Homo sapiens: one gene and its partners. The protein of the gene in region 2 purifies or fractionates together with the protein of the main gene of each other region. This does not show direct contact. Each region holds a gene or a part of one and is shown on either strand. Other genes may lie near its edges.

Region 1 (3,500 bases), on a different chromosome or scaffold from region 2:
AACAGATTTCAACCAGCACTTGTGATCTAGAGTAACATCCCAGGTAATTCAACTAATCACTTTTATGTTTGTAGGAATATGTCAGTGTCTATTTCTTAAGTATTCAATTTACTTCACAATACCTGCTTGTGGTAACTTTTAGTTTCCAACTGACTAGACTGTCCCTTGGTAGTTCACATGCCCAGATCCAGCTTACTTAGCTTTTGACTCCAATGACTTTCAGGAGCGTAGTGAAAGGAAGTAACCACTGCCTACACTATATAGTTAAATTTTCATTTAAAAAAGCAGTCATATTTGTAAAACAGGCGAAAGCACTAAATTTTATAGGAGAATTGATATGCAAATTAAGGAAGAACTGACTAATGTGCCCCAGACCCAGGAAGGGGAGGAAAAACAAGAATGACTGAGTACTGAGTAGAAGAAATGAAAAATACTGAGTAAAAGTTCAATGTTTATGCAACTTGCTAGCCCCTATTCAAAAATCCACTAATTTGTGCAGCAGCAATAGAAAATGAAAAAAAAGATGAAAAAATTCAGAAATCCAGAAACATCTTACCATTAGTGCTGTTTACTTAGATAGATGTATATCTGATAAAATCATGTTCCATACACGAAATTCTGTTATGATTTGGGTGTATCTAAATAAGCAGCCAAACTATAGAAATCACTGGTTTCTTCCAGAACTAACCAAAAAGAAATTCCCATATCACTAATATGACAATGTACTTCTGAATAACCATATCCCAAAGAAATAATCCCCAAAGATATAGTGCATCCCCAAAGCATGTAGTGGAAGAAAAAAAGAAAGCAGGAAATTCCAAAGGTTTCTATAATAACACAAGAGACAATCTGAGAAACCTTAAACATTTTACAACTCTCAGCTGAGCACTGTGATATGGGCCGGCCTGTAACCCCAGCTACTTGGGAGGCTGAGATGGGAGGACTACTTGGGCCAAAAAGTTTGAGGTTGCAGTGAGCTATAATTGCACCACTGCACTCCAGCCTACATAACAAACACAGTAAGATCCTGTCTCTTAAAAAAAAACAAAAACAGAAAAAAAGAAAAAAAAAAGCGTAAGACCTTATAGCTGTTCAGTAGCCTTCTTCTCAAATAAAATTAAGAATTCAGTTACTATATATCCTTTATTGGAAAGCTACTGACATAGTCTTAGAAGAATTACAGACTCTGAAAACAAAAAGGTGTTATTAGGAAATTACTCATCACTGGAATATTGAGACACTACCCAAAGGATTGGCACTATCACATTTAAGGTGCTAACATACAAGGGAGCAATGAAGCACAGTCCTGGAAATTATCTGGTAATTTCAGTAGCATGCTATTTAATTGTCTTTTTAAAATGAAATAAACAACAAATAAAATGAAGTCATATACAATAAATATCTATGAAATATTAATATACAAAGGAAAGAAAATAAGGGATATTTCACTCCTTAAATGACAAGGTCAACCCTTTCTTAATAATTACACATAACAGTAAATCATAGTTCTGGAAACTCTTTCCAAACAAACTAGTGAGAATATACTACAGGAAAATCTGAATTTGAAGAGGTTAGAATGTTGTCTAAGATCCCTACACTGCTCCACTGCTTAAAATATATTCCTGGATCTTTCCCTGCTGAAGACTAATGTAAAAGTAATTATCGGCTGGGTGCGGTAGCTCACACCTGTAATCCCAGCTCTTAGGGAGGCAGAGGCAGGAGGATAGCTTGAGCCCAGGAGTTTGAGACCAGCCTGGCCAACATAGTGAAACCCCGACTCTACTAAAAATACAAAAAATTAGCCGGGCATGGTGGCACGCGCCTATAGTCCCAGCTACTCGGGGAGGCTGAGGCAGGAGAGTCACCTGAACCCGGGAGGCGGAGGTTGTGCTGAGCCGAGATCGCTCCATTGTACTCCAGCCTGGGCAACAGAGTGAGACTCTGTCTCAAAAAAAAAAAAAAAAAAAAAAAAAAAAAAGTAATTATCTATGCCAGGCTAATTTCTATCTATGCCTGCTGGAATTTTTATTATCCTGTACCATACAATTAATGGGTAGAAATTACGTGCTTTAAGTCTCCTGCTGCAACCTGAAGGCAACAAATAAGATATTTTGAAGTTGACCATTTTGCTTCATGTAACATTAACAAACTAAGGGCCTAGTGAAGGATGGAAACTATATAATTAATAATAAAAGGGCAAAAGAAATGTTACCTAGAGAACAGCTTAATGAGAAACGTCAGAGATTAAGATACTTTGTAGTTTAAACGTAAAACATTAAGTAACTACAAAGAGGTGGACTTATTTTACAATACAAATACAATGAAAACTTTAGAGTTTCATTTAAAGTTTACTCACCCACAAAACTGAGAGATTAAAGGAGAAAAAGGTTATCCAAGACAAAATCTAGAATGCAGTAAATGTTTTGTTGTTGTTTTGAGACAGAGTCTCGCTCTGTCACCAGGCTAGAGTGCAGTGGCACGATCTAGGCTCACTGCCATCTCCGCCTCCCTGGTTCAAGTGATTCTCCTGCCTCAGCCTCCCGAGTAGCTGGGCCTACAGGACCACGCCACCACGCCCAGCTAATTTTTGTATTTTTTTAAGTAGAGACGGGGTTTCACCATGTTGGCTAGGATGCCCGCCTTGGCCTCCCAAAGTGCTGGGATTACAGGCGTGAGCCACTGCACCCAGCCAGAATGCAATAAATGTTAAATAAACTTTAGGTAAAAGAAAACTTCAGGCCTGGTGTGGTGGCTCACGCTTGTAATCCTGGCACTTTGGGAGGCCGAGGCAGGCAGATCAGCCTGAGGTCAGGAGTTTGAGACAAGCCTGGCCAACATGGTGAAACCCTGTCTCTGCTAAAAATACAAAAAATTAGCCAGGCGTGGTGGCACACGCCTTAACCCCAGCTACTTGGGAAGCTAAAGCAGGAGAATCACTTGAACCCAGGAGGTGGAGGTTGCAGTAAGCCGAGATCGCGCCACTGCGCTCCAGCCTGGGAGACACAGGGAGACTTGTCTCAAAAGAAAAAAAAAAAAGAAAACTTCATACAACAATCCCATTACATAGAAATACAACTGTCAGCCGGGCGCAGTGGCTGACGCCTGTAATCCCAGCGATTTGGGTGGCCGAGACAGGCCGATCATGAGGTCAGGAGTTAAAGACCAGCCTGGCCAATATGGTGAAACCCTGTCTCTACTAAAAATACAAAAATTAGCCGGGCATGGTGGTGCGCGCCTGTAGTCCCAGCTACTCGGAAGGCTGAGGCAGAAGAATCACTTGAACTGGGAGGCAGAGCTTTCAGTGAGCAAAGATCGCACCACTGCATTCCTGCCTGGGTGACACAGCGAGACTCCATCTCAAAAAAAAAAAAAGAAAACAAAAAACAAAGAAATACAACTGTCAGGCTGGGTGTGGTGGCCCACACCTGTAATCCCAGCACTTCGGGAGGCCAAGGTGGGTGGATCACTTGAGCCGAGGAGTTCAAGACCAGCTGGGGCAA
Region 2 (3,500 bases):
AATTTGAAAATATTTTTAGTGGCTCATATTCATTACATCATTCGAAAGCATTCAAGTTATTTTTATTAAAAAAAAATCTTAAATTCATATGCTATTTGCTGATATAAAAAATTAAATAACATAATTATAACAAGTTTAGCTGATACAAACAGCTCTACAACTAACAGCTGGCAACAGCTAACATTTGAAAAATATTCAACCAATGGGAGCACAAATATAAAAAAATATTGCGGTCACATGCCACAGAAATCACTTAGCATTATTGATAGACAAAATGGAGAGCACTGGTTTGTTGGTTAGGTCAACTCCATACACCGTAACTTTCTACACAATTTTTCAGGGACACGTGTTAGTTGTCTCTTCTACAAACTTAAAATTTATAAGCAAAATAAAGAGATAACACTCATTTTTTTTCTCTTGAAAACTATTTTAAAGTTTTATTGAAGAGCAAGGCCCCTAAATAGAATCCAAAGAGAATTTTACTTAACTGAAAAAAAAGTTATTAAGAAATGATAATAATATTAGTACTAATACTAAAATAGTAAGTACATTAAAGAATGTACATAATGGAAAAAACACTGAACTAGAATCAGAAAGTGTACATGGCTCAAATGTGCTCTTAATGGCTGATCATCTCATTTTTTACAAAAGATATGAATTCTACGTACAAAATCTGAAAATAAATTGTAGGCTTCAAAGATATTATTAGGAAGATAAATGAACTCTTTGCAAGACACACACAATATAACTGTAAGAAATTACATCACTGAGAATTATTCTTAAAATATAAACGTTAGGTAAGTGAAGAACAACATGCCGGTAAAGTACTTACTGTTTTAGTTTTTCTGTGAATATATATTGAGTGAAATCTTTCATTGATGGAGCAAAATACATAGTCTCCTTTATTTTAATACCTTTACTCTCAATGTGATCTGAAGAATTAAACCGTAACACATAAAATGGATGTGCAACAGGTCCAAATATCTCGAATATCTGTAATAGAAACATAAAGGCCTCTTTTAACATGTAAAATAACTATTTGAAAAGTCAGCAGTGTTTTCTTTTAAAAATCCCACTGATAATTGCCAGAACAAGGTAATTTTGTCAGTGTTAGGGCAATAAAATAATTTTTTAGTTATATTTATGTCATTTTTACATATTCAGTCTTCATATATTGATTAAAATGCACTCGCTCATTCCAGATTTCCCTTCTATGAATGTGAAACAATAGTAACAAGTTTGTTCCTCACCAAATTCAAATCATTTTGATGGTACCAACTCGATGCAAATTATGATTTTTTTAAATTATTGCTCATTTAACTTGTAAAGTACACAGAAAAGGATTATAATTGGTAACTTTTGAGAAAACTGTATACATTTGGAATCATCAGATGGGAAATATAAAAGCAAGCTTCTGACTTCAATAGGAGTTAAATCACTTTTGCTGTTTCCACAGTGTTAGGAATTTTGTAAAATTACAGACTTTTTCTAATTTAACAACTAATAAAGTAGAAGTTATTTATGTTTAAAAAACACAAAGATGGTGCAGCCTTTAACATTTAACTAAAAGAACTGCTTTTAGCAGAACCACATATTTTACTTCTGAAAACGTTTTAAGAATAATGAAAGGAAACTTCTTGGTTTCAAATTGTACTTTCTTCTCAAAATACGTGAATTAAAAAATATATTTTCTGGCTGGGCGCAGTGGCTCACGCCTGTAATCCCAGCACTTTAGGAGGTGAGGCGGGCGGATCACCTGAGGTCAGGGGTTCAAGACCAGCCTGGCCAACATAGTGAAACTCTGTCTCTACTAAAAATACAAAAATTAGCCGGGTGTGGTGGCAGGCACCTGTAATCCCAGCCACTCAGGGGCTGAGGCAAGAGAATCACTTCAACCCAGGAGGCAGAGGTTGCAGTGAACCGAGATTGTGCCATCGCACTACAGCCTGGGGGACAAAAGCGAGATAATATATGTATATTATAGAGATAAGACCATGATCAATGCCAGTATAGATTTTTCCAGTCTTTTTTCTATAATACGTTATTTTTTTCTTTAAGACCATACTGTAGTTTTGTATACTGCCCCCTTTTAAAAACCTAAAGTTGTTCCATGTTATATTCTTTGTAAGTATAATTTTAGCTATCATAAAACACCCCTTTACAGACTCAGGACAACTTACTTAACTTCTTTCTTATTGTAGGACATTTAGGCAGCTTCCAATTTGTTCAACATAATACATGATGCCATGATAAACATATATAAATCACTATACTTCAGACTTCCTAAAAATTGATTTGTAAGGAGTGGAGGTATTGAAGCTGAAAGTACGATAATTAACACTAAGGCATAAAAGTTTTAATGGAAATTACTAAATAGCTTTCTAAATAGCTTGGACCAATTTATACCAACTGCATTGAACATGGCTGTTTTATCACATCCTCAGTTCTTGATTTTTGATAGTAAATGCTCTTCACATTTTATGATTTCAGTACAGCACTGAATCTTTCATTAATTTTCATTAAGGCGTAAAACAGCTCACCTATCAGGGCACCACCATTCTGAAGATATGTGTACTCTAAAAAGAAGTAGTGACATTAAAAACTATTAAAATGCCAATGTATTATGAAATAACACTAATAGCATCACAAATTTAAAGCTTTAAAAAAGTGTAAAAGCAAAAAACTTTAAGAAAATAGCAAGACATCTGCTTTGAAAAGGTTTAGATAAATCCAGTAGACCTCGTCCAGTAAGAACTGTGAAGGACAGAAGAGGTGCACTCAGCACCACTCTTACTGGCCTACATGACATATATTATTGTAGTCTTACTTTCACTTAAAATTGTCTTAAAAACAATTCACAAGTTTAATTCTCTCACATATACACAAACCCAATTCTTCATTTGGTCAGAGATTTAAAAATATCTTTTAAGTTTCCTGTGTATCCATTAATACAAGGTAAAATAATCATCGTTTGCAACCTGGTACACAGACTGTTTCCCAGGGATTTGTTTCCTAGATAGCATGAATCCATTTCCTAAGTGTGAAAAACAATTTCAGTGGAAAAATTCCTTGCCAACTTCAGGTCTGTGCAGTATGGTTTGAACTAAAATATAAGTGACATTCAAAATTCTTGGACAAAAGCAAAGCATAGTATTTTAGTTGACTGTTCCTAGGTTCTGAAGTGTTTATGAGCCACAACTATAATGAAATCATTATAAAGTTTTAAGTAAAACAACATCACAGGCAGTAGATAACAGGAAGCCATACAATAGACAGTATGTGGCATGAGCCAATACTAATAGGTATGTTACAGGAAAACTTGACCAAGTTCACATAAGCAATTTGGCTAATCCAGAGTAGAAAAGAGGAATTTAACAATATTTTAAATAACCATTAGCCTCTGAGTGTAGAGTTTAGATTGACTAACACCTGAGAGCTAAACTGTAAAGAGCAACTTAAGACACAGCAAGGCTCAGGCCGGCCCACTTCTCCTCATACAG
Region 3 (3,500 bases), on a different chromosome or scaffold from region 2:
AATGGAAAGCAAGCTATGCTAGAATGTCATGGCAGCCACAACTTTTCTAGGAAATACCAATGCTTGAGGGTGTGCAACGTGACCCGTTAATGAATACAGACTCAGAAGTCCTGTCCTGTCCCCTGACCACTGACCACCTTAACTTTTCAGAAACATAGGCAGATTTCAGGCTTTCTTACGGATGATCTACTTGGCTGGTGACTTGGTTTCACTAGTGGGAATCTTTCCTAAGTTTTTAGATCACAGGTGAAATTTATCAATCCTTCAGGCTTCGTGAGGGAGCTCACACCTCATATAGCCAAAAAAAAATGAACAAACAAATAACTGAAAGGATATTGCCAACAAAAACTGACACTGTATATAAATCACTTGACTTGTTGAAAATATAATCCTCTCCTAGGGTTTGCAAAGTTCTTGCCCTCACCCAACATACCCAGGAAGAAATGACACCGCATCCTGTTTCTTGCACTTAACCATGTGATACCCTGAAACATAGCTTGGACTTACCCAGCCTGGCCTCCAGCCTCCTGCCACCCACTCAACTCCGGCTCCTAGCCACGAGTAAGAAGTGCCCGCAGGTATCTCACCAGATGCCTGGACTACTGAGATTTCTAGTCTTAATGATTTAGGTAGCTTTCTGAGTTTGTGGGTAATGTGCACCAATTTTGAAAAGCAACCCTTTCCTAACAGCTTCCAATATAAGATGATCCTGGCAGAAGGCAGGAAACACACACCGCTGCTGTTTTCAATCATAAAATCCCAAAATGAACAGGCTTCCAACACAGGTAGATGGTAAATCAACATTCCTCTAAACATGTGTCTGCCTACATAAAAAAGAGAAATTGTTCTGAAACAAGAATGTACCATAAAGGTAGGCCCAGAGAAGAAGTCGAACCAAACGTACCATGAATCTTAAATAGTCACCCAACTGTGCCCCTGTGAGCACCACGGACACCCTTTCAAGGCACATACCATCTACATTGTAGACTTTCAGCCCGGCCATATGCTTGGCTGCTCGGAATTTGGAGGCTGTTAGGAGGTTTGGGTTATAGATGGTGAAATCTTTGTAGTAATTTTCTAGGACCACCAATGCTGCTCGCTGGATACTGAGAAAAAAAGAACAAAATTAATGCAAAGCTTTTTCACTGAAGAAGCAGGTCCTAAACGAAAAATCCTCTTTTGGAGTCAGGTAAAGGAACACAACATCAAAGATAATCTCATACAGAAGTCCACTGGGTTCCACCACACTTCTGGTCTCCAGGATGAGAACTTAAAGCTGAAACTAAGCCCCATGGCCAGGTGACTTCTGTGCCCTCTCCTGGACCTGTGATTAGCCACATCCCATCTAGCCCTTTGTTGAAAGAGGAAGAAGTTGTAACTCATAACTTACATTTAGCTTTAGGCACACAAGAACTTTTTCTATTTTTCCTCGGTTTACAAAAGAAGAAACTGAGGATGCCCCCAAAAGGGCAAGAGACTTACTAATGGTTGCAGAGCTAATGAGTGAAAGAACAAAGTATAGATTCAGGTTTCTCAGGTCCTCATTCAGGGTTTTGTCCCCTAGGCCTTGGTATCCCTGGGTATAAGGAATCCTGGAACTTAGGTTTTATACAGACCAGAACAACTGCAGCCATCCAGGGCAGAGCGTACTTAAGAGGGCCTTGGCCACGCGCGGTGGCTCACGCCTGTAATCCCAGCACTTTGGGAGGCTGAGGTGGGCAGATCACCTGAGGTCAGGAGTTTGAGACCAGCCTAACCAATATGATGAAACCCCGTCTCTACTAAAAATACAAAAATTACCGGGGTGTAGTGGCATGCACCTGTAATCCCAGCTACTCGGGAGGCTGAAACGGGAGAATCACTTGAACCCAGGAGGCGGAGGTTGCAGTGAGCCGAGACTGCACCACTGCACTCCAGCCTGGGCAACAAGAGTGAAATTCAGTCTCAAAAAAAAAAACAAAAAAAACAACAAAAAAAAGAGAGCCTCCGCTGAGACCACTTGATCTTTCTGGGTCCCCCTGCCCCTTGGAGTGCTATCTCTGGCCTTTGGCAGAGGGGTATGAAGGTGACTATCTATGTTCCGATATTCTAGGTCTCCAACTATCCCCTGCTTGGTCCTCAGAGAGCAGCAGGGGAACAAAGAACAGGTACCATCAACAAGTGGGAGAGAGGATGTGGGAGGGTACTTATAATTGGAAATGAGTATAGACAGCAAAAGAATATGCCCTTGGTCTATGGTGCAGAACACTTGCCACTTTGAAGAACACCTTGCAATGATACAGCAAGGGTTTGCACATACCTGATTCTCATTTAACCCTCACAATCATTCGAGGTAAGAAAACTGAGGCTCAAAAATCTATGACCTGCACAACAGTATGCATTTAATAAACAGGAGAGCTGGAACTCTGATATGATTTACAAACCTCCAAGTTGGGCTTCCCGGTAACATGCGGACTCTGTGTAACAGCGTACGTGCTGACATCTCCAACCACCACCATGTTAAATACCACAGATATATTTTTATCTTGCCCTTTGGATTTTCCTTTCTAGTACTCTGCTAAGCAGATCGGCTTACAAGGATTATTTGCAGTAGCCAGAGCACCAGGATGGGGCTCCCTTTGATTCCTGGATGACCACACTGTGTTCCAACACTCTCCAGGTGGCTCAGGGATCCTCACTTCACACCAAGACAAGGGAGCTCCTAAACTATCCACTGGAAATTCTGTCTACCCACCCATTTGGCTCCCCTTGGAGCTCTGCTTCAAGACTTGAACAGAATTGAATATGGAAGTCAGTCAGCTAACCTGCTTAAGAGCAGAATCATGGTAAAACTTTCTGAGTTATATCCCCAACAGTGCCCGCATTCAGTTGGTACTTAATATCGTCCTAGATAATGTACAGTCATGTGAGGCTGGGGAACACTATCAGGGGAAATCCGGTGAGACCAACTTTGCATAATGGAAGTAAACCTAAGACTCCTAACAGCAAATCTGCATTTTGAAAATTCTGACCATTCAGTTACTCAGTTGTTCACTCGTCATTCCATATTTGAGTGCCTGTGTCTGCTAAGCCCTGGGAATATGAAGATAGACCTTAGCTGGTACCTGGAGCATGAACCCCATGACAGTGAGTATGTTCTCATGCTGGAACACGTGGGGCTGAGTAACCACGGAGAAGAGCTTCTGGCTGCCTGGGACAGGGTGCAGCCTTCCTGAGGAGGCGGACTTCCGTGGAGGTTTGTGTGTCACGAGAGCTCTTCCTGCAGAAGTCTAGTCTGCTTGCCCTGAAGGTCTCACCTGGCAATCTCCAAGTCAATGTGGCTCCAACTCCGTCCTTGCCCCCTGTCCATGGCATTCTCCAGAGAGGGGCAAGTGTTTCTTTATTCCTACCCCATCCAGAGATTCATTGCAACCCTCTCCCTGATCTCTCTCTCTCTCTCTCTCACATACACACACACACACACACACACACACACACACACACACTCCCTGGTGTGTGCC
Region 4 (3,500 bases), on a different chromosome or scaffold from region 2:
ATTAAGCCATTTTAAAAGCTTAGAATAATAAACATTAAATTCAGTGGTTCATTTCCTTTTTTATTTTTTTGAGATGTAGTCTCACTCTGTCACCCAGACTGGATGGAGTGCAGTGGCGCAATCTCGGCTCCCTGCAACCTCTGCCTCCTGGGTTCAAGCGATTCTCCTGCCAGCCTCCAAAATGGCTGGGATTACAGGCATGCGCCACCACGCTCAGCTAATTTTTGTATTTTTAAGTAGAGACAGGGTTTTGCCATGTTGGCTAGACTGGTCTCAAACTCCTGACCCGCCTGCCTCAGCCTCCCAAAGTGCTGGAATTACAGGTGTGAGCCACTGCACCCAGCCACAGTGGTTTATTTCTGATGGGAAACAGAGGGATGTAAACAAAAAGGGATTAGACAGGAGTCAACTATATTGGTTAATGTTTAATGTTTTTAACCTAAGTAATAGATGTCTAGGTATTTGATACATTAGTTAAGACATCCAAAAAGAAAGTATAGCAGCTTAAAAAAAAAAAAAAACCTAAATTATTAAGTGAACATTTTCAAGATACAAGAATTTCTGACCTAAAAGGCACTCATTCTAGGCTCACATTATGGCATTCCTACAACATCTCAGCAACCTGTCAGAAATCTTTCAAAAGGATTTTCCGTAAACAGAAGCAACAATTAAGTAACAAATCCCTGGCCTCAAAGAAGCACTTCTAATGTAAATGTAAAATCCATACTTAGCCTGTGTGACATTTATTATCATTCATGTACAGCGTTAGATTGGCAAGCCCAAAACAGCCTGACCACAAACTATCTCTTGGCCAACAATTGAGGGCCATTCACTGTAGTTCCTGCTACAGACAAAACTGACTCTACTCTAATTACCTCTGAGATCACCAGCGATTGTGATCAAGCAGAGAATATGGGCAGACCACAACTCAGCAGAAAAACACCTAAGTTTTTAGAAGGAAGGCTATTTCACCAGCATTTGCTCCTAAGTAAATCTCAATGTTGTTCCCTTTAAGGAATTTTGAGACCATTTTATATTTTTCAAAGGCAGGAGTCTTTACAGCATTCTACACTTTCCAAAGAGTTTTCACATGCATTATCTTTTTAAATTTTCAAGACAGCCTTATAAAGTAGGTGGGCAAATTTATCTCCACTTTCCAAAGAGGAGACAAAACTTACTTGTGGTCAAATAACTGGCCTGGTATCCCAAATCTTAACAGAGGTAGGAGCGGGACCAGAACCCAGGTCTTTTCCCTCTCCTTCGTAAATTCAAATATGTCTTAAGATAATAAACCACATTCTAAACAGGTTTTGTTTTGTTGTGTTTGTTCTTTGAGACAGAGTCTCACACTGTTGCCCAGGCTGGAGTGCAGTGGCGAGATCTCAGCTCACTGCAACCTCTGCTTCCCGGGTTCAAGGGATTCTCCTGCCTCAGCCTCCTGAGTAGCTGGGACTACAGGTGGGTGCCACCATGCCTGGCTAATTTTTTGTATTTTTAGTAGAGATGGGGTTTCACCGTGTTAGCCAAGATGGTCACGAGCTCCTGACCTCGTGATCCACCCGCCTCAGCCTCCCAAACTGCTGGGATTACACGCACCACCACATCCGGCTAATTTGGCCAACATGGCAAAACTCCATCTCTACTAAAAATAGAAAAATTAGCCAGGCGTGGTGATGGGCGCCTGTAATCCCAGCTACTTGGGAGGCTGAGGCAGGACAATCACTTGGACCCGGGAGGCAGAGGTTGCAGTGAGCCAAGATCGTGCCACTGCACTCCAGCAAAGTGAGACTCTGTCTTAAAAAAAAAAAAAAAAAAAAAAAGAATAAATAAACAATAGGCTGGTCACAGTGGCTCATGCCTATAATCCCAGAACTTTGGGAGGCCAAGGCAGGCAAATCACTTGAGTTTGAGACCATCCTGGCCAACATGGTAAAACCCCATCTCCGCAAAAAATACAAAAACTAGCCAGGCGTGGTGGTAGGCACCTGTAATCCCAGCTACTCAGGAGGCTGAGGCAGAAGAATTGCTTGAACCCTAGAGGCAGAGGCTGCCATCAGCCGAGATCGTGCCACTGCACTGCACTCCAGCCTTGGCGACAGGGTAAGACTCCGTCTCAAAAAAAAAAAAAAAAAGAGAATAGAAAATGGTGCCTACTATACACCAAGAATTAGACAATTTGATCAAAACACACAATCTCATTCTCGCCAGGAACATTCTATTTCATTTATATACAGAAAAGAAGAGACATCATGCCGTAAGTACATGATCTCACTTTTCAGAAGTATAAAACATAAAGCTTTGCAGGAAGTATGAGAGAGGAGTTCTGCTTTGTACTTGGGAAACTTCATGTCTAGAATACTGAATAAAGGGGAGAAAAAAGAAAGCCACGGGGTGTCTGTAAGAGCAGTACAGTTAGGCAGAACAGCCAATGAAATGGAAGGGAATGCACATCTATGTACTTTAGCTGTGCTAAGTGCTTTAAATACAATCACCTCCTGTAATATTATTTTTAAAAACTACCAAGTGTAAGCATAACTGAAATTAAAATATCCAAATGGAAAAACCCTATAGATCAAGATCTTTCAGAAAGACAACATACCTGTAACCGTTGCAACACTCCTGATCGTAAGTTTCCAAATCCATAGTGGCACTGCGGATTCAAAGCACTTTCTGATACCTCTTCACAGGGTGTCTGCTCAATTTCCCAATCAAACTCTTCATCGTCAACTACTTCCTCAGGAATCTCAGAAGCACCTGAATGTGTTAAATTTTAATTTTTTTTAAGTATTGGATTTAAGTACAACTAGGGGAAGAAAAAGTATAGGAAAAAATGCCCACAAAGATGTACCAAAAGACATATACCAAATGTACTAAAAGAATATTCATAGCTCCGCTATTCGTGACAGCAAAAAAAAAAAAAGAACCAAAAATGTGGTATGTTCATACAATGGAATATTACAGAGCAATGAAAGCAAACGAATCTCAGCTAGAATATGAATAAATCTCACAAAAATAATGTTAAGTGAAAGCAGCCAGACAAAAAGAACACATACTGTATGATCTACATATGCAACGTAAAAACAGGCAAAACAGAGGATAGTGGTTACCCTGGAGAGAGGGCAAAGTAATGGAAGAATACAGGATGGTATTCTTCGGGTGTTGGAAATGCTCCATTTCTTGACAGAGGTGGTGTTCACTTTACATCAGTGGTTCCCAAACTTTTTGGCACCAGAGACCGGATTTGTGGAAGACAACTTTTCCACAGATCAAAGAGGTAAAGAGATAGTTTTGGGGGATGAAACTGTTCTACCTCAGATCATCAGGCTTTAGATTCTCATAGGGAGCACACAACCTAGACCCTTCGCAGGCACAGTTCACAGTAAGTTCATGCTCCTATGAGAATCTAATCTGATCTGACAGGAGCCAGAGCTCAGGCAGTAATACTCCTGGCCCTCCGCTCACCTCCTGTTGTGCAGCCAGGTTCCTAACGGGCCATGGAT
Region 5 (3,388 bases), on a different chromosome or scaffold from region 2:
AGAGTGGTGCTCAGGGCCACGGATGGCTCGAGGACCACTGTTCCCCCTCCACTGTGCTGAGCCTCAGTATGCATACACAGAGGGCGGTGCCCCCGAATATGACTCAGGACAATACACAGGGCCTTTTCTGAGAAAGCCATGTGTTCACCCCAAGAGGAACTTCAGCTCTGACTACTCTCCTCTAACTGGAATTATGCACAAGATTCGGTATAACTGTTTTCTCTGGGTTCTCAAAGGCCTGTGTGGCCCAGAAAACATTAAGAAGTATTAGCCTGGAGGACCCCTGGGAGAACCCCAGAATCTTTCCACTGTCACCCACCACCACCTTGCTGAGCCCCCAGCAGGCCCAGTTCAGATAATGGAGCACACACAAAGCCTTCTGCAAGGCAGCACACTCACTCCCGCCTCTGTGTGTCTGCGACGAGCTCAGGGCAGCTGGCGGTAGAGGCCTCTTCCCACCATGCTGCCCTGGGCTCTACCCTTGACAGATGCTTCCAGACTTGAGGATAAATTTGAGTTTATTTTAGGAAAAAAAATGCTTAAAGCACAAATTACAGAGAGGAGGAGCTGAAATCCTTCAAAGGCCTGAGCTTCTACTCCTTTCCCTTAAGATTCCTCCAAAGCACCAGCTCCATAAAATCCTTCAGCTCCCCAGACCCACACCAAGAACCCCACATGTTAATTGGATCAGCCAAATCTACAAGCAGATAAGTCCTAAGGAGAATGCCGAAGCGTTTTTCTTCTTCCTCAAGCCTAGCATGAGTAAGCCCCCAAATTGCTAGTCTGGCAGAATGGCAGACTCTGCCTCCAGATCCAAATGATCACCTAGACACCCCCTCAGGCTCCTGGGCCTGGGACCACAGCTACGCAGCCGCCCCCACTCCTCTCAGAGCCGAGTGGAGTAGCCTGCCACCGCAATGTTCTCCCCGTTGACGTAGCTGGCATCTGGAGAGCACAGGAAGGACACGATTCCTGCACAGTCCTCTGACTCCCCAATCCTGGATGGAAGAAGGACACAGTGTCAAGCATCTTGTACTCTGATTCTGCTGCTCTGGGGCTCACGGATGACAGGTGGGAGTGGGCTCCATGGGGAACAAGGTGGATGCAGCAGGGCTACTTGCACCCTCCAGGGCCATGTGGACTCCAGATTTCAGCAAAAACAATGGCCAGATGACAGGGAGGGGTCTGCTCTTGCAATAGACTCAACTGCCCCTGCCTAGCCACACATGGACCACCAAATCTCCAAACCCCACTTGCCTCTGCAGCTGATGATGTTCCTTGAAGTTCTTCCAGAGAGACTCATTCCCATGAAACTGGGCAAAGGGAAGAAATGAAGGAGTCAGTGCTACTAAAACAAGATGGGCAGGGCCCCGGGAAGGCCACCAGGCAGAACACCTAGGGCAGCTTTGCCCTTCTCAAAAGAAGGAGCATCTTTTCAGGATGGATGGACTGCACCATGGCTGAGTTCAGAGAACAATGAGGACCTCAGTCATAGGCATGCTGACCTAAGGATTCAGTCACCCCTTGATCCCTTATTCACTGGGAAGGGTTCCCACTGAGCCAGACTGGGAGATGGAAGACACACCCAATCCTCACCACTTTGCTGAAGTCAGTTTTGATAATTCCTGGAACCACGCAGTTTACCCGGATGTCCTTGGGGGCCAGCTCCAATGCCAGTGTTCTAGTGAGACCCAGCAGCGCTGTCTTGCTGACATTGTAGACACCCAGCGCCTGGGAAGGGAATTGACAGAGTGATTAGGATATGGGAGAGTGGGGGAAAGCATCAGTTGGATTTCTCACCTACAGGGATCTCACAGGCCCAGCAGCCCTCCCACCCACATGGAGACAAGCTCAGCCCAGGGCAGCAGGAGGATGGTGGGGGTCTGTCCCAGGCACTTTGTCTGTAAGGCTCTGAGGAAAAGAACAAAGTTGCCCCTCACCCTATACCACTCAGGAGCACAAGGACCAAGCACTTACCACTACTGGATTATAAGCTGCAATGGAAGAGACCAGGATGACAGCACCCCTCCTGAGACAAGACAAACATAAGAGAAGCTGAAGCTAAGAGCTTACCACTGATGGTGACACTATCATGAGTTCATTAAATGATGCAACCCTCACAGAAGCAACACAGGTCCTATTACTGTCCCCATCTCAGAGTTCAGAAAACTGAGGCTCAGAAAGGTTTAGTACCAGCCAATACACGGCAGAGCTAGGATTCCATGCCTATTTCTCATAAATACGATGTCCATGCTCAGAACCCTTATCTTCTGCTTCCTCTCTTGCCAGGTGCTTGAAGGAGAGGGCAGGGTGGGCTTTGTGAAGAGGCACCCAAGGCTGATGGTGAGTGCCTATCAATGAGCAACCTCTAAGGAGCAGATGGGGTAAGGGAGACCAGAAGTGACAGTCAGGAACTTTCCTTCTACTGAAGACAGCCCCTGGCCAGTTCCTAAGGGTGTGTCTGTGAGGGGTACAGTCAGATCTGCAGGACCTGGAACACAGGCAGGGTCCCTGGAGACCAAGCGCAGGCATGAGGAGAGGTCTGGGACAGGCTTTTTCCTATGGAGAGGAATGGGGCTAACCCTGTCATTGGTTTTAAGTTGGTAAGAACAGAGAGCAGGTAAGGTGACAATGACCAGCCCACAAGGTCAAGGAGTTAAAGCATAGCCTTGTCCCAAACCTGCTGATGTCAAGGCCAAGGAGGCTATGCCTGGGCCCCTGGAATACTACTCTCATCCTGCAGCCACTGGAATTGGGAATGGCAGCCACACAGATGGGGAGGCAGGACAAGAAGATGAGGGATGTGGAGATCCCAGACCTCTTCTGTCCTCTACCCACTACTGGCTGTGCTACCGACTGTATTTCTGTGCCCACCTCAGGTCCCCAACTCCGACTGGTCCCCACCCCCGCCCTGCCATACCTGTTCTCCATGTAGGGCAGCAACTGGCTCAGCAGCAGGGCTGGGGACTTCACGTTCACACTTAGGATCTGAAATCAGAGCAGAGCATGGGTGAGGGCAGAGAGACATGGTCAGCCCAAGTCCTGCTCTCATAAGACACTTGGAGCCCTGTAATTTGTGCAGTAGACCCAATGTATGTGCATATAAGAGAAACCAATCCCCCTTCTGACTGGTGCAAGAGGTATTTCCAATTTGCTAATGGTTTCATAGGCAGGCAGGCTAAGTCACAGGCCTGTGAGCAGAGCCCTGAAAATGTGAATTGTTCAGGACTGACACGAGGAAGGAAATGTTCAGGCCTTTTAAAGAAAATGGGGACTGGGGGCAGTGGGTCATGCCTGTAATCTCAGCACTTTAGGAGGCCAAGGTGGGAGGATTACTCAAGGCCAAAAGTTCAAGACCAGCCTGAGCAACATAGTGAGACCTTGTCTC
Region 6 (3,500 bases), on a different chromosome or scaffold from region 2:
ATTTCTTAAAACTGTATTCAAATCTAGGTCTAGTGAGTTTTTATTATGAAAATGTTAACTGTTTTATCCTCCTGCATTCATCCGATTGTTCTAATTAACCCTAACAAACTTCTAACAATGGACCACAAGTGTCTCAGAAGAGGTAGTGACTAAAGATGCCTTCATTATCCAAAAGGAAATCAGGCAAACAAATAGAAATCATCATTGAACACTTGGCCCTTAGTGATCTCCCACATATCATCTACTTTTGTGTTATCAGCTAAAATTTCTTTAACAGCTGTAGTTTAAAGATGTAAACAAAATCCTAACCAGAAAATACTTCAAACACTCATATTTACAAATTACATTAAAACCATCACCTGCATGAGCAATAAGCCGTGCTCCAACTAATTCCCCAACCATGACTGTAACATTGGGTGCAATGGCCATCATTCGATTTTGTAGATATTCATAGAGCTGGGTTCGATATTCAGAGATTTCAATCACCTAGTATAAGGAATAAAGTTAAGTCACAAATATCATATGAGTAAAAACAGTAAAAATTCCTGTCTAAAACACTGGAGCCCTCAATTATGAAAGAGCAGCTACACAACCCTGGGTACTGGGTACATCACCTATGCCTAACATCAGTTTTCTTTTTTTTTTTTCCCAGGCTGGAGCGCAGTGGCGCAATCTCAGCTCACAGCAATCTCCGCCTCCCGGGCTCAAGTGATTCTCCTGCCTCAGCCTCTGGAGTAGCTGGGACTACAGGGGCCCGCCACCACGCCCAGCTAATTTTTTGTATTTTTAGTAGAGACAGGGTTTCACCATGTTGGCCAGTATGGTCTCTATCTCTTGACCTCATGATCCTAACATCAGTTTTCTATAAGATGGCTGTAATGAGGACTTCGTTATATAATGTATGTAAACTACTTGGTCCACTGCCTGAAAATCTTAGTCAGCGTAACTGTATTTTTAAAAGATTCTAAGCAGCCCAGGCACAGTGACTCACACCTGTAATTCCAGCACTTTGGGAGGTCGAGGCAGGTGGATCATGAGGTCAGGAGTTCAAGACCATCCTGGCCAACATGGTGAAACCCCGTCTCTATGAAAAATACAAAAATTAGCTGGGCATGGTGGCACGTGCTTGTAATCCCAGCTACTCGGGAGGCTGAGGCAGGAGAACCGCTTGAACTGGGACCTGGGAGGCAGAGGTAGCAGTGAGCCTGAGAACGTGCCACTGCACTCCAGCCTGGGCTACAGGGTGAGACTCTGTCTCAAAAAAAAAAAAAAAAAAAAAAAAAAAAAAAAAAAAGATTCTGAGCAATAAACATTTGTATCATGCTCTTTTTAATTCCTATATGGCTACCTTCAAATCTGAAAGAAAAAAAAATCACAAGATATAGACATAAGACTCAGAATTAAAAGGCTCAATCCATAATTGTCTGCCATCCTTTTTTTTTTTTTTTTTTTTTTTGAGATGGAGTTTTGCTCTTGTTGCCCAGGCTGGATGCAATGGTGCCATCTCGGCTCACTGCAACCTCCCCCTCCCTGGTTCAAGCGATTCTCCTGTCTCAGCCTCCCGAGTAGCTGGGATTACAGGTGTACGCCACCACGCGCAGCTAATTTTTGCATTTTTAGTAGAGATGGGGGTTTCATCATATTGGTCAGGCTGGTCTCGAACTCCTGACCTCAGGTCAATCCCTGACTCGGCCTTCCAAAGTGCGGGGATTACAGGCGTGAGCCAACGCGCCTGGCCTTCTCTGCCATCTTAATTGATTTTTGGTTAATTCATTATTCAGACGATGATTGTAAATTACTTCCTTTTAATATGTATTTCCCCCTTTTAAGTATACAAATCATGATGGCATCAGATGAGGTAGTGACTGAACACCCTCATATTTATGTTATCAGGTGAACAACAATAAGTGTAAAAATCATCATTGCCATCAGAAAAATTAGTACTATAGAGCTGGTAACACCACAACTAGATTCTCCAGGAGTAAAATTTACCTGGGTGCAAAGATGCAGAATATTGCAAATATCTTCTTCTGAAACCTCTGTTCCCATTGATATCTCTGCAGCTGCTTTCACTTCTGCTTCAACTTCTTCTGGCAGCAACTCAGAAAGCTTGGCAGAGGCATAGTTCTTCCTATCGCCTATGGAATGTTTGCAGAGGATGAGGGAGAATCACTCTTCAACAAATTATATAAAATCCAGCAAATAGTCAAAAGAAAAAGTAGAAAGCCAATGAAAAGGATGCCTAAACAAAACAAAAAAAATGAAGAAGTTTGACCTAGTATAACAGTTTTCCTCATTTAAGGGTTTAAGTTTAGACATTAAATGTCTCCCCACCACCTTCTTCCAAAAAATAATCAGAGTAAAAAGAGGACAAAATATGCCACAACACTTATTACAGAATATAAGTGGCAAAAATTTAAAAAAGACAGGACTAATAATAATGTCACAGACAATTTTATACTGAAGCTGGGGCCAGTAATTCGTAAGGCAAGTAAACCATCAATCAATCAAGTTCCTCTGTACGTTAACGACAATCAACAATCAAGTTCCTCTGTATATTAACAGTACAGACGGCAATACTGCTATTTAGCATTAGGTACTAATATCATGTTATAGGCCATCAAAATCTAAGTTAAAATTCATTTTGTTTCTTAAATTTAAGACACTAAACTGCTACACTTCCCAAATACACAGAAATTGCAAAAACCCTGGGAATCTTGCTTAACAAAATGCTATACGTCATGTTTTAGGATGCAATCAAATTCATTTACTTTCAATGCCTTAAAGGATGAACAAATTACTCACCAACTTTCTGTAAACACTTGCAGTATGTTAAATTATCTGAAATAATTTTTCCTAATTCAGGGAAATGCCAGCCATACCATTCTCTACATCGCATAATGTAGTTGTTTAGTTCTTTATCCAAGTCATCTAACAAGGCTGTAGTAGATTAAAAACAAACAAACAAAACTTAAAGGGATTTATTGTGGTAAAACATACACAACATAAAATTTAACACTTCAGGCTGGGCACGGTGGCTCATGTCTGTAATCCCAGCAGACAGGCATATCACGAAGTCAGAAGTTCAAGACCAGCCTGGCCAACATGGTGAAACCCCATCTCTATTAAAAATACAAAAATTAGCCAGGCATGGTGGTGCACACCTGTAGTCCCAGCTACTCTGGAGGGCTGAGGCAGAAGAATCACTTGAACACAGGAGGTGGAGGTTGTAGTGAGCCGAGATCGTGCTACTGCATTCCAGCCTGGGTGACAGAGCAAGATTCCGTCGCAAAAAATTTAAAAAAAAAAGAATAAAAAATAACACTTCAACCATTTTCAAGTGTACTATTCAGTAGCATTAAGTATTCTTATGATGTTATGCAACCATTACCAGGATCTATTGCCAGAGCAATTTTATCATCAGAAACTGAAAAATTCTGTACCCATTAAACAGTAACTCATTCCCACCTTCCCCCCAACCTCTAGTTATCTTTATACTT
Region 7 (3,500 bases), on a different chromosome or scaffold from region 2:
TTTCAGATATCATCACAACTAGTCTGTAAAGGGCCCTTCTCTTTATATATTAGTTCAACAAAATTTGAGTACCTATCATGTGTTAGGCACTCTTCTTGGTGATTGGGATGTTAGAGTAAACGGTGAAGGCTCCTACCCTCATGAAGCCTACAGAATAGTAAAGATAGACAATTAACATAAGTAAATTATAATTTACAGAAGGTGATTATCCTCACTTAGCCCCTTTCTCCACTCCCATTCTCCTCCTCTCCTTGGCAATTGTTGTAATGTGTTTATTATATATTTTTTGTTTTTATAAGTTTTTGCAAATTATGCATTCTTTCCTGTTCATATGTTTTAAGATATATCTAAAAGGCATTTAAGATCTATATCTTATTGTTGCTATGTGAACATTTAGTCCATTGCTTCTAACTACTGCATAATACTCATGTGCATTCCTCACATTTTACTGATTTATTCAGTTTTGAACACCTAACCTATGTAGCCTTGAACTCCCTACCACTACAGATAACACTGCCATGAACATCATTGTATGTGTCCCCTTATGAACCTAGAAGTGTTTCTGGGATACACATCTAGAGTGGAATTGCTGTGTCATGAAGTATGTGTATGTTTAATTTGCCTGAGGAGTATCAGATTGCTCTTCAGAGTGACTACACCAATGTATAGTTGCACCACCAATCCTGTGTCCTCATATCTATGTCAACAATTAGCATTATACAGTTATTAACTTTTACCAGTGTAATAGATGTAAAATGACACTATATTTCTATTTTAACTTGCTCTGGGTCTGAACATCTTTTCATATACATGTTAACCTTTTGGATTTTCTCTTAAAATTTCCTGTTTATATATTTTGCCCAATTCTTGTTGGAATTGTTATCATTTTCCAGTTGGTTTATAGGAGTTAATCAAATCTAGATACAGTAACAACTAGTTGTTGGTTTTAGATGTCACAAATATGTTCTCCCATTTTGACATCTGTCTATTGCTGTTGCTTGACAGAAAGCCTTAACTTTTATATAATTAAGCAGTAAGTGTTTTGCCTTATGTATTAGAGGTCCTTTTCTGTCCTTCTGTTAACTTTTCAGTTTTACTTTTCACATTAAGTCCTTAATTATTAGGCTAATTTTTAGTTCTGGTCTCGGTAGGAATATTACCTCACTTTCTCAGTAAGTCTTTTTTTCTCTACATAGGGAGCTAGTTTTCTGAACACTTTCTACTAATCAATTATTTTTCTCACTAATTTGTGGGATAACCATTACTGATAAGTTTGAGCTTTCTATTTTATTTAATTGGTCATTTATTTGGCCTTTTATCGTTACTATTTTTGATACTGTGACTCTATAGGATGTCATTTATCTGGCAGGACAAGTCTTCAATGTTTATTTTTTCCCTTAGGATTGACTAACCTAAATCTTCAACCTTTATTCTTTCATATATATTTAAAAGTATGCTTATTGAATTTCTTTTTTAAAAGTCCACATGGAATTTTATTTGGGATGCGTGGAATATTATCAGGGGAACCCGCCCCCAATATTTCAATGTAGGTTCTATTTTCCATAAGTGTCCGCTGGCTGAGAAATAAAGAGTACAAAGAAAGGAATTTTACAGCTGGGCCGCCGGGGGTGACAGCACATATCAGTAGGACTCTAATGCTGGCCTGAGCCTCAAACCATCAAGTTTTTTGTTAAGAGTTTCAAAAGGGGAGGGGGTGTAAGAACAGGGAGTAGATCACATGCTTCAAAGTGCAAAGAGCAGAACTACTAATAAGGGTCTAACAAAGATGACATGCTTCTGAGGGAACAGGACAAATGGCAAAAGCAGAACTACTGATAAGGGTCCAATAAAGATCACAAGGGAAAGGGCAAAAGCAGAACTACTGATAAAGGTTTATGTTCAGTGGTGCATGTATTGTCTTGATAAACATCTTAAATAACAGAAAACAGGGTTTGAGAGCAGAGAACCAGTCTGACCACAAATTTACCAGGGTGGAGTTTTTCCCCACCCTAGTAAGCCTGAGGGTACTGCAGGAGACCAGGGCGTATATCAGTCCTTATGTCAACGACATAAGACAGACATTCCCGAAGCGGCTGTTTATAGACCTCCCTCCAGTAGTACATTCCTTTCCCAGGGTATTAATACTAATATTCCTTGCTAGGAAAAAGAATTTAGTGATATCTTCCCTACTTGCACATCCGTTTATAGCCTCTCTGCAAGAAGAAAAATATGGCTCTTTTTGCCCAACCCCGCAGGCAGTCAGACCTTACAGTTGTCTTCCCTTGTTCCCTAAAAATTGCTGTTATTCTGTTCTTTTTCAAGGTGCACTGATTTCATATTGTTCAAACACACGTTTTACAATCAATTTGTACAGTTAACACAATTATCACAGTGGTCCTGAGGTGACATACATCCTCAGCTTACGAAGATAACAGGATTAAGAGAGTAAAGACAGGCATAAGAAATTATAAAAGTATTATTTGGGAACTGATAAATGTCCATATTAAAATGAAATCTTCACAATTTATGTTCCTCTGCCATGGCTCCAGCCGGTCCCTCCGTTCAGGGTCCCTGACTTCCCACAACAGAATATATACACTAATTTGAAGAGGATTGACTTCTTTTTTTTGCTTCACCTTCTAAGTTCAGGAGTACATGTGCAGGATGTGCAGGTTTGTTACATAGATAAATGTGTGTCATGGTGGTTTGCTGCACAGATCATCCTATCACCTATGTATTAATCCCAGCATCCATTAGCTATTCCTCCTGATACTTTCCCTTCCCCCAGGGCCCCTGTCAGGCAGGCCCCAGTGTGTGTTTTCCCCTGCATGTGTCCATGTGTTCTCATCGTTCAGTTCACACTTACAAGTGAGAACATGTGGTGTTTGGTTTCTGTTCCTGCATTAGTTTGCTGAGAATGATGGTTTCCAACTCCATCCATGTCCCTGCAAAGGACATGATCTCATTCTTTTTTATAGCTGCATAGTATTCCATGGTGTATGTGTAGCAAGTTTTCTATATCCAGTTTATCATTGGTGGGCATTTAGGTTGATTCCATGTCTTTGCTATTGTGAATAGTGCTGCAATGAACATATGCTTGCATGTATCTTTATAACAGAATGATTTACATTCCTTTGGGTATACACCCAGTAATGGATTGCTGGGTCAAATGGTATTTCTGCCTCTAGGTCTTTGAGAAATCACCACACTGTCTTCCACAATGGTTGAACCCTACCAACAGTGTAAAAGTGTTCCTTTTTCTCCACAACCTTGCCAGCATCTGTTGTTTTTTAGCTTTAATAATAGCCATTCTGACTGGCATGAGATGGTATCTCATTGTAATCTTGATTTGCATTTCTCTAATGATCAGTGATGTTGAGCTATTTTTTGTTTGTTGGCCACATATATGTCTTCTTTTGAGAACTCTCTGTTCATGTCTTTTGCCCACTTTTTAATGGGGTTGTTTTTTTCTTGTAAATTTGTTTAAGTTACTTATAGAT

The links.
Region 1: the proteins of NAF1 (region 2) and CHD8 fractionate together in Homo sapiens (co-fractionation; one large-scale study listed by BioGRID). This does not show direct contact.
Region 3: the proteins of NAF1 (region 2) and VANGL1 purify together in Homo sapiens (affinity purification with mass spectrometry; one large-scale study listed by BioGRID and IntAct). This does not show direct contact.
Region 4: the proteins of NAF1 (region 2) and SHQ1 purify together in Homo sapiens (affinity purification with western blotting; 2 studies listed by BioGRID and IntAct, with this or other methods). This does not show direct contact.
Region 5: the proteins of NAF1 (region 2) and DHRS2 purify together in Homo sapiens (affinity purification with mass spectrometry; one large-scale study listed by BioGRID and IntAct). This does not show direct contact.
Region 6: the proteins of NAF1 (region 2) and NOP58 fractionate together in Homo sapiens (co-fractionation; one large-scale study listed by BioGRID). This does not show direct contact.
Region 7: the proteins of NAF1 (region 2) and INSL6 purify together in Homo sapiens (co-immunoprecipitation; one large-scale study listed by IntAct). This does not show direct contact.

What each region holds. Positions count from the first base shown.
Region 1 is NC_000014.9:21,449,624-21,453,123, forward strand, and holds part of CHD8 (chromodomain-helicase-DNA-binding protein 8), read right to left. Parts: intron 1-3,500. UniProt on the Homo sapiens protein: ATP-dependent chromatin-remodeling factor, it slides nucleosomes along DNA; nucleosome sliding requires ATP. Acts as a transcription repressor by remodeling chromatin structure and recruiting histone H1 to target genes.
Region 2 is NC_000004.12:163,139,391-163,142,890, forward strand, and holds part of NAF1 (H/ACA ribonucleoprotein complex non-core subunit NAF1), read right to left. Parts: intron 994-3,500; coding exon 833-993; intron 1-832. UniProt on the Homo sapiens protein: RNA-binding protein required for the maturation of box H/ACA snoRNPs complex and ribosome biogenesis.
Region 3 is NC_000001.11:115,679,970-115,683,469, reverse strand, and holds part of VANGL1 (vang-like protein 1), read right to left. Parts: intron 1,107-3,500; coding exon 973-1,106; intron 1-972.
Region 4 is NC_000003.12:72,838,446-72,841,945, forward strand, and holds part of SHQ1 (protein SHQ1 homolog), read right to left. Parts: intron 2,755-3,500; coding exon 2,600-2,754; intron 1-2,599. UniProt on the Homo sapiens protein: Required for the quantitative accumulation of H/ACA ribonucleoproteins (RNPs), including telomerase, probably through the stabilization of DKC1, from the time of its synthesis until its association with NOP10, NHP2, and NAF1 at the nascent H/ACA RNA.
Region 5 is NC_000014.9:23,642,752-23,646,139, reverse strand, and holds the end of DHRS2 (dehydrogenase/reductase SDR family member 2, mitochondrial), read right to left. Parts: intron 2,989-3,388; coding exon 2,921-2,988; intron 2,030-2,920; coding exon 1,978-2,029; intron 1,732-1,977; coding exon 1,597-1,731; coding exon of another isoform or gene 1,586-1,596; intron 1,314-1,585; coding exon 1,258-1,313; intron 999-1,257; coding exon 887-998; coding exon of another isoform or gene 838-886; 3' UTR 501-837; downstream 1-500. UniProt on the Homo sapiens protein: NADPH-dependent oxidoreductase which catalyzes the reduction of dicarbonyl compounds. Displays reductase activity in vitro with 3,4-hexanedione, 2,3-heptanedione and 1-phenyl-1,2-propanedione as substrates.
Region 6 is NC_000002.12:202,289,763-202,293,262, reverse strand, and holds part of NOP58 (nucleolar protein 58), read right to left. Parts: intron 2,941-3,500; coding exon 2,806-2,940; intron 2,139-2,805; coding exon 1,993-2,138; intron 1,947-1,992; exon of another isoform or gene 1,835-1,946; intron 487-1,834; coding exon 360-486; intron 213-359; exon of another isoform or gene 129-212; intron 1-128. UniProt on the Homo sapiens protein: Required for the biogenesis of box C/D snoRNAs such as U3, U8 and U14 snoRNAs. Part of the small subunit (SSU) processome, first precursor of the small eukaryotic ribosomal subunit.
Region 7 is NC_000009.12:5,179,140-5,182,639, reverse strand, and holds part of INSL6 (insulin-like peptide INSL6 precursor), read left to right. Parts: intron 1-3,500. UniProt on the Homo sapiens protein: May have a role in sperm development and fertilization.